Linked DNA regions of Homo sapiens. Changing the gene in region 1 together with any one later gene gives a genetic interaction. Each region holds a gene or a part of one and is shown in the gene's direction. Other genes may lie near its edges.

Region 1 (3,205 bases):
TCACTAAATTGCTATCCTCCTTTGGAGAAGCTGCTTAATCATTTAAACTCAGAAAAATTAATATCCTTTTTCTTCTGTATATGGTCACATTTGATTGCACTGTTGTGAGTATTTATTTGCTTGTTTAAATTAAAGCTCTCACTATGTTGCTTAAGCTGGTCTTGAACTCCTGGGCTCAAGCGATCCTCCTGTGTAGGCCTCCCAAAGTGCTGTGATTACAGATGTGAGCCACGGCCCCCAGCCTATAACCCTTTTTTAATCCAGAACAAATGATTAGATTAAAATGGAGTATTATTTATTTTATATACAGGGCCTTGCTTTGTCACCCAGGCTGCAGTGCAGTGATATGATCAGAGCTCACTGCACCCTCAATCTCCCAGGCTAAAGTGATCTTCCTACCTCAGCCTCCCCAGTAGCTGGGCCCACAGGTGCATTCCACCATGCCCAGCTAATTTTTGTATTTTTTTGTAAAGACAGGGTTTCACCATGTTGCCCAGGCTGGTTTTGAACACCTGGGCTCAAGTGATTCACTCGCCTCCTCCCAAAGTGCTGGGACTACAGGTGTCAGCCACCACATTCAGCCTTTTTTTCCCCCAAGAAGTGGTGCCTAACTTCACTCAGGCTGGAGTGTAGTGGCAGGATCACTGCTCACTACAGCCTTGACCTGGACTCAAATAGTCGTCCCACCTTACCTTTCTGAGTATCTGGGACCACAGGTACGTACCACCACGCTTGGCTAATTTTTTAAAATTTTTAATAGAGAGGAGGTGAGCCACTGCACCTGGCCTTAAGATAAATCGTTTTTTAAAAATGTGTATGGGCTGGGCCTGGTGGCTCACACCTGTAATCCTAGCACTTTGGGAGGCTGAAGCAGGTGGATTGCGAGGTTGAGATTGAGACCATCCTGGCTAACATGGTGAAACCCCGTCTCTACTAAAAATACAAAAATTAGCTGGGCATGGTGACGTGTGCCTGTAGTTCCAGCTACTCATGATGCTGAGGCAGGAGAATCGCTTGCACCCGGGAGGCGGAGGTTGTAGTGAGCCGAGATCTAGCCTGGTGGCAGAGCGAGACTCCGTCTCAAAAAACAAAACAAAACAAAACAAAAAAAACAGTGTATGAAGTTCTTAGGCTTCATAAGAACTTCATACTTCTTATGAAGGTATGAAGTAGGCTAAGATAAATAACTCTGAGGCTGGGCGTGGTGGCTCACGCTTGTAATCCCAGCACTTTGGGAGGCTGAGACAGGCGGACTACCTGAGGTTGGGAGTTCGAGACCAGCCTGACCAGCATGGAGAAACCCTGTCTCTACTAAAAATACAAAATTAGCCGGGCATGGTGGCACATGCCTGTAATCCCAGCTACTCGGGAGGCTGAGGCAGGAGAATCTCTTGAACCCAGGAGGCAGAGGTTGCGGTGAGCTGAGATCGCACCATTGCACTCCAGCCTGGGTAACAAGAGTGAAACTCCATCTCAGAAAAAAAAAAAAAAAAGATAAATAACTCCTGTTGCTTAAAGGCATAATTATTCATTGAATGCCATAAAGATCCTTATTTTTTTTTTGTGGTCCTGTAAGTCAAATTACAAAATGTTAAATAATAATGTCATAAATTTATGCCATTCCATATTGTGCTAAATATTTCTTCCTTAATTTATTTTACATCATTGATCTTCCATCAAGAGAACATGAAAGTCTTTGCCACATATTGGGTGACTTTCAAAGAGAATAAAACACTATTTCCCTTGCCTTTTCATACTAGGGCAGTATCTCCTCTAGCTAGTGCCCATACAGAAAATTCTATCACCATACAAAATTTAATGCAGTATTTATGTTTTAAAGCACAGGTGTACCGAAAACTGTGAAAAGTCTGAATTTATGGGTTCTATGCATGCATTTTTGCCTAACCTAGAGAAAGAGTTTGATAAATTTTTACCAGCTTTGAAGATGGATTAACTTTTGACTTTGAGCTTTAAACTTTTAAGTCAGACATTTCAGGACTAATTTGATTTTGTAGATATCATTGTAAGAACTTTATTTGAAAGACTGAATAAAGGGATTTGATTTGTTTTCATCATTTAAGCACAGTCTTGTGATGATGAGAACATAAGTGTGATTCTTTTCTGTATTTTGAGGTCCCTAATCCAAAGCCCATTTTGCTAGGATTTTTTCTGCTATCAGATGTGTTTTCACTCTAAACCTAGTCTTTTATGACATGAATTGATTACTTCCTGTTAATTTTCTATCCTCCCTTACTATCCTCCTTTTTTGTTTTCAGTATTCAGTATTTCAGTATTCTAGAGTAGATTTTGATATAAAAGAAAATAATTCTTACATCATCTTTTGCAACAAATTTTGTTTTCTGAATTGATAATAAATTTAAAAAGTTGATTCCTATTTTCACATATGTTCATATGCCCCTATGTTTGGGGGTATCACTCAGTTTTCCCTTTTTTGTGTAAAGATGTTTTGTAAAACAAAATTGTCTCAAAGTGATTATATTATATATATAAAAAGTAACAGATTTTAACAAAGGTTAAAAGATTCTTGGGGTAACAGATTCTTCTGGGGCTTGGAAATCTTCCATTTCTCTTGAGGGTTTTTTTTAATGAGTGTTAAATATGTTAAAATTTTTATTTCTACCTCATGTGTTTTTTTAAATTATTACTTGAAGTTTTTTATTTAATAAATTTTTTCTACTAATGGATCTTAACTGTGTCAATTATTATTAATACTGAATAATAATTAAACTCAGGGTTATCTAGCATGTTTTGTTTTTTTTTTTTTTGAGACGGAGTCGCCCAGGCTGGAGTGCAGTGGTGCGATCTTGGCTCACTGCAAGCTCTGCCTCCCGGGTTCACGCCATTCTCCTACCTCAGCCTCCCGAGTAGCTGGGACTACAGGTGCCCGCCACCACGCCTAGCTAATTTTTTTTTTTGTATTTTTAGTAGAGACGGGGTTTCACCATGTTAGCCAGGATGGTCTCCATCTCCTGACCTCGTGATCCACCCACCTCGGCCTCCCAAAGTGCTGGGATTACAGGCGTGAGCCACCGCGCCCGGCCGCATGTTTTCTGATAGTGACAAGTGAAGTATTGATCATGCTAGAAAGCTGAAACCAAGCAGCATTGATATTATAAAGAGATTTATGAAGGGCACACAGGATGGGCTTGATCATGGAGAGGGGTTATAGATTAGATAGGACAAA
Region 2 (4,240 bases), on another chromosome or scaffold:
GGCAGACGTTTTTACCCTTAACTGCCTTTTCCTTTTCTAACTTCTGCTTCTCTCTAACTCAGATCATAGTACTCGTGAAAAATTTGTCCTGGGGAAGGAAGCAAGACCCCTTAACATTTTTCTCATTTCTCCTATTTCCCCATAGGCAAAGATGCCTTTTGATGCCAACAAACTGTATTGCAGTGAAGTGCTGGCCATATTGCTCCAGGACAATGATGGTGAGGCGCCCTCTCAGTATTGATATTCTGTTAGGATAGGAGCCAGGCTTGTTTCAGATCATGACAGCAAGCTCTCTTGCCTTTGGCATCCCCTTGCTCTCCCTCTCACTCCCTGTGCTGCTTTTGTACTCTGTCAAGCTGTATTGATTTTGTTTGCTGATGTATCAGTGTTAGACGGCTGTAAAATCTGACAGTTAGGTTCATTTTTTTTCTTCCTCTATTTTTTTCCCCTTTAGAAAACAGGGAATTGCTTGGGGAGCTGGATGGAATCGATGTGCTTCTTCAGCAGTTATCCGTGAGTAATTCTTATGCTTCCTGTCTGCTGTAAGATACATGGTCTGCTTTGAATGGGAGGTGGAGCTGGAAACTGTGGGAAGGAATAAGCCATGTGCTGCAAGCCATATGGAGCATGTTGGCAGGTTTGAGGGTTATACGGAGGGACATGGTTTGCCTCCTTTTCTTAGTCATTTGCTCTTTATGACCAGACATCACTGTGTATCAGTTCTGAACTTTCTTCATCTTCTGATATGATATTGTCAACTCAAAAAAGATGTGCCTCATGCTTAAGTGTGTATGTTCTGGGCCAAGCATACCAAATTATTTTCATTTGACCCACTGCCAAGATTATTCACCAACCTTCCTTTCAATCTGCTGTGAAAATGGAGTATGTTCATTTAGGATCTGAATAAGCTCAAGGAGTACAAGTTCCACTGCAGTGGGGTGGGGGTCAAGGGGAGGATAGGGGAGGATGTGGTGCTGAAGGCTGGAGTGAGAACTTGGAAACTGCCATTTTCTCACTGTAAGAAATGTAAATCCAGTTGAAATGTTATTCTGCTGGCATTCTGAAAATACTGTTAAGATTTCCTCTTACAAGTTTTAGCTGTGTTATTCTAAAAACAGGACTGAAAATAGATCATTTGGATAAAATCTTAAGAGTGTTGGGAGAGTCTGAGATGTCAGTTTGCATACAGCTTCCATCTTGGTGCCAGCAGCCTGAGTGTCTTGGCCTCCACCCCAAAAATAGAGCTTTGAAATGTGAATCTGTTTCCAGTTCTGGGAAGGTGCTTAGTCCTTTTCCTGTGAGATTATTGATCTTCTTGTAGTAGACTGTATGGGTATGCATATACAGTTTAAAGGCTTCTCTTAACATGCCTTACATCTCTGGCAAAAAGAAAACTAATGCTGTAAGCCCTTCCCATGAATTAAAGCCCCAGCTCCCCTGTGAGGGAATTCAGTAGCCTTGGTTGTCAGGAAATGCTTCCTTATATTGAGCCACGATTCAGCCCTCTGGATTGTGGTTGCTTTTAGAAGGGAAAGAAATGAGATATGGTTGGGTTGGGCAAGTGGAGGGCTTTGAGGGGAGTTGGCAAAGTTGTTTCTCATCCTGGATAATGATTTCAGGGGTGTTCACTTCATTTAGTTTTATATGTCCTTTATGGAGTTTTTCTGTATCTGTGTTATATTTCACGATAAAAAGATTTTGTTTTTTATTGGGTTTTGGTTTTTAAAAAAATCTGCTTGCCTGGAACTGTCAATTACTGATGGACCCAGTGGTCAGTAGAGTGTTTTGGCTTTTTTTTTTGCATGTATTTAATATATGTGAATCATTTAGTTTCTCTAAAATGGAAACTGATGAGAATTTTGTTTGGTGAGCTTCTGTTTCCTCAGTCGTAGAGTTATGACCCACAGGTTTTAGGAATTGTTGGATGGAGGCTCATGAAAAGACATTCTCTTATAGCTCTGTGCTTTGTGCTGTTTTTGCTTGACAGGTGTTTAAAAGACACAATCCCAGCACGGCTGAGGAGCAGGAGATGATGGAGAATCTGTTTGATTCCCTCTGCTCCTGTCTAATGCTTAGTTCCAATCGTGAGCGCTTCCTGAAGGGCGAGGGTCTTCAGCTGATGAATCTCATGCTCAGGTATGTTTCGAATGCCCTAGTTCTCCCACCTTTTTTGCCTGACTTTTCACTGTTAGCCTGAATTCAAGAGCATGTAGCTATGATCATTTATTCTGTTGGGTTTCCTAGACTTTACCCTGAAGAGTAAAGTCTTCAGGCATGGGGGGATGTGTTTGTATAGGTATGTGGTCTTTCCTAAAGTTAGAGTAGATGAATAAAAAGTATATTGTGTTCTGTTTGTGCCCTACTGTGGTGGTTGCTAATACGTCCACTCCATTGAAGGACATTGGTGTTTTTCCTCTCCTTCCCATAGTGTGTTAGTTTTGGGGAAATCTAGCCATTACTTCTAAACTTGGACTAATTTTCTGTATATATCACATAGACCTATCTATGCCATATGTTTGTATTTTTATTGAAAGCAGCGTATCATTCATATTTTTCACTCCTCATTCAGTAATGAGTTGTACATGTGCTGTATGCCTAGCTTAGGAAATATGAAAACGTGCAAGACAGTTCTAGAAACTTTTATTTATAGTACTTTCCTTGTGTGTCTTATTATTTATACGCTAATTCCTGAAAGTGGATCTTATATTAGTTTCACAGTTATTTTATAGAATCCTAAAGTTAGAAGCAAAAAGGGGAGAGGAAGCTTATGTTGATAACTCTTGAGACCCTGTCTAGGAAGGGGAGTAGAGAAGTGTGTGGGGGAAGGCTGAGGGGATAACCAGACTGTGGTATAGGGTCAAGGGACTTAAAAAAAAAAATCGAGCATGTTTATGTGGTTGGAAGATTCTAGTCATTATGAATTGTGCCCTACAGAGGAGCAAGTTGAGATTTAAAAAAAAAAAAAACAAGAAAAAAAGAAATGGAGCCAGAGTCTGCTGTCTTAAAACTTCAAGTATACTGAAAGTTCTGTTGAACTAAGATATTTCTTTGGAAAGGTTTTTCATAAATGTGATATATATTTGTTAAATAGAATTTAGAATACTAACATATAAAACTGCTATTAAAACATTGACAAGGTACTATGTTAAGTACTGGGCATACACAGAAATACCTAAGACAGAATTTCTGTCTCCACAAAGTTAGGAAAACAGTTCTGTGAGCTAAACACAGCCTGTCTTTGGGTGTATATTTTCTTCTAGTCTTTTTTTCTATAATTTTTAACAACTTTTTAAGCCTGCCACACATAGGATTTTCTGTATTGCTACATTTCAGACATAAGATGCTGTTTCCCATGCTGTGAATAATCTTCATGAGAGTTTTCAGTAACTGCATCATGGCCTCTAAGGGACTGTAGCTTACTTAGTATTCTTCTGTTGTTGGCATTGAGGATATTTCCAATGTTTTGCCGTTATAACAAATTCTACAGTGACCATTTTTGTGTTTAAAATGATGTTAGGATTATCCAGGTACAGTAAGTCCTCACTTAACATCATCAGTAACATTCTTGGAAACCATAACTTTAAGCGAAATGATGTATAATGAAACCAGTTTTTCTGATCATTGTTATAACGGTGTTATTTGAGGATCTGACCTCCTATATCCCGTTTTACTTAAAGTTGCCATTTCCAAGTCTATCTATGATGTTAAGTGATGACTTACTGTGTATATTTCTAAAATATATTATCTTTAAAAGGCTTCTGGGGGGCTGGAGGCACAGTAGACCTCTTCATTTGTCCAGTGTGTACCAGACCTTGCATTGACCAAAAGTCTTCCTTTGAGGAATTGCTTTTAAAAACAATTTTTAAAAAAATGCAGAGAGGAGCATGAGAAATTACTCAGAGGCCTTTTGTGTTTAGCTGATTTTTGCTAGCTTTACTCTCTTGAGTCTTTTGTTTATCTCCCTTACCCTTCTAATTGCTTGTCCTTTTGTTGAAATGACCCACCTTCTCTCAAGTAAATAGCATAAATAGAAGATACATTTGGCTTCTTGGATCTTCTAACCTTAACACAATGTTCTGAAGGGACTTTTCCTTAAGCTTCTTAAAGGTCTGAATTGCCAGTGTCTTTGGTTGGTTGAGTGCAAATATGAAGTGATATATTTCTGCAGCATATGGCTAGGTATTGCATAGCAGAGGGGAGCTGAATAAATAACCAGAAATATGGATTATTCAAACAGGAA

The links. A genetic interaction does not mean that the proteins touch.
Region 2: changes in DNA2 (region 1) and CTNNBL1 together harm fitness less than expected from each alone (positive genetic interaction), as found in Homo sapiens cells (one large-scale study listed by BioGRID).

What each region holds. Positions count from the first base shown.
Region 1 is NC_000010.11:68,413,564-68,416,768, reverse strand, and holds the end of DNA2 (DNA replication ATP-dependent helicase/nuclease DNA2), read left to right. Parts: coding exon 1-60; intron 61-1,661; coding exon 1,662-1,730; 3' UTR 1,731-2,705; downstream 2,706-3,205. UniProt on the Homo sapiens protein: Key enzyme involved in DNA replication and DNA repair in nucleus and mitochondrion.
Region 2 is NC_000020.11:37,777,200-37,781,439, forward strand, and holds part of CTNNBL1 (beta-catenin-like protein 1), read left to right. Parts: intron 1-145; coding exon 146-218; intron 219-454; coding exon 455-513; intron 514-1,987; coding exon 1,988-2,136; intron 2,137-4,240. UniProt on the Homo sapiens protein: Component of the PRP19-CDC5L complex that forms an integral part of the spliceosome and is required for activating pre-mRNA splicing.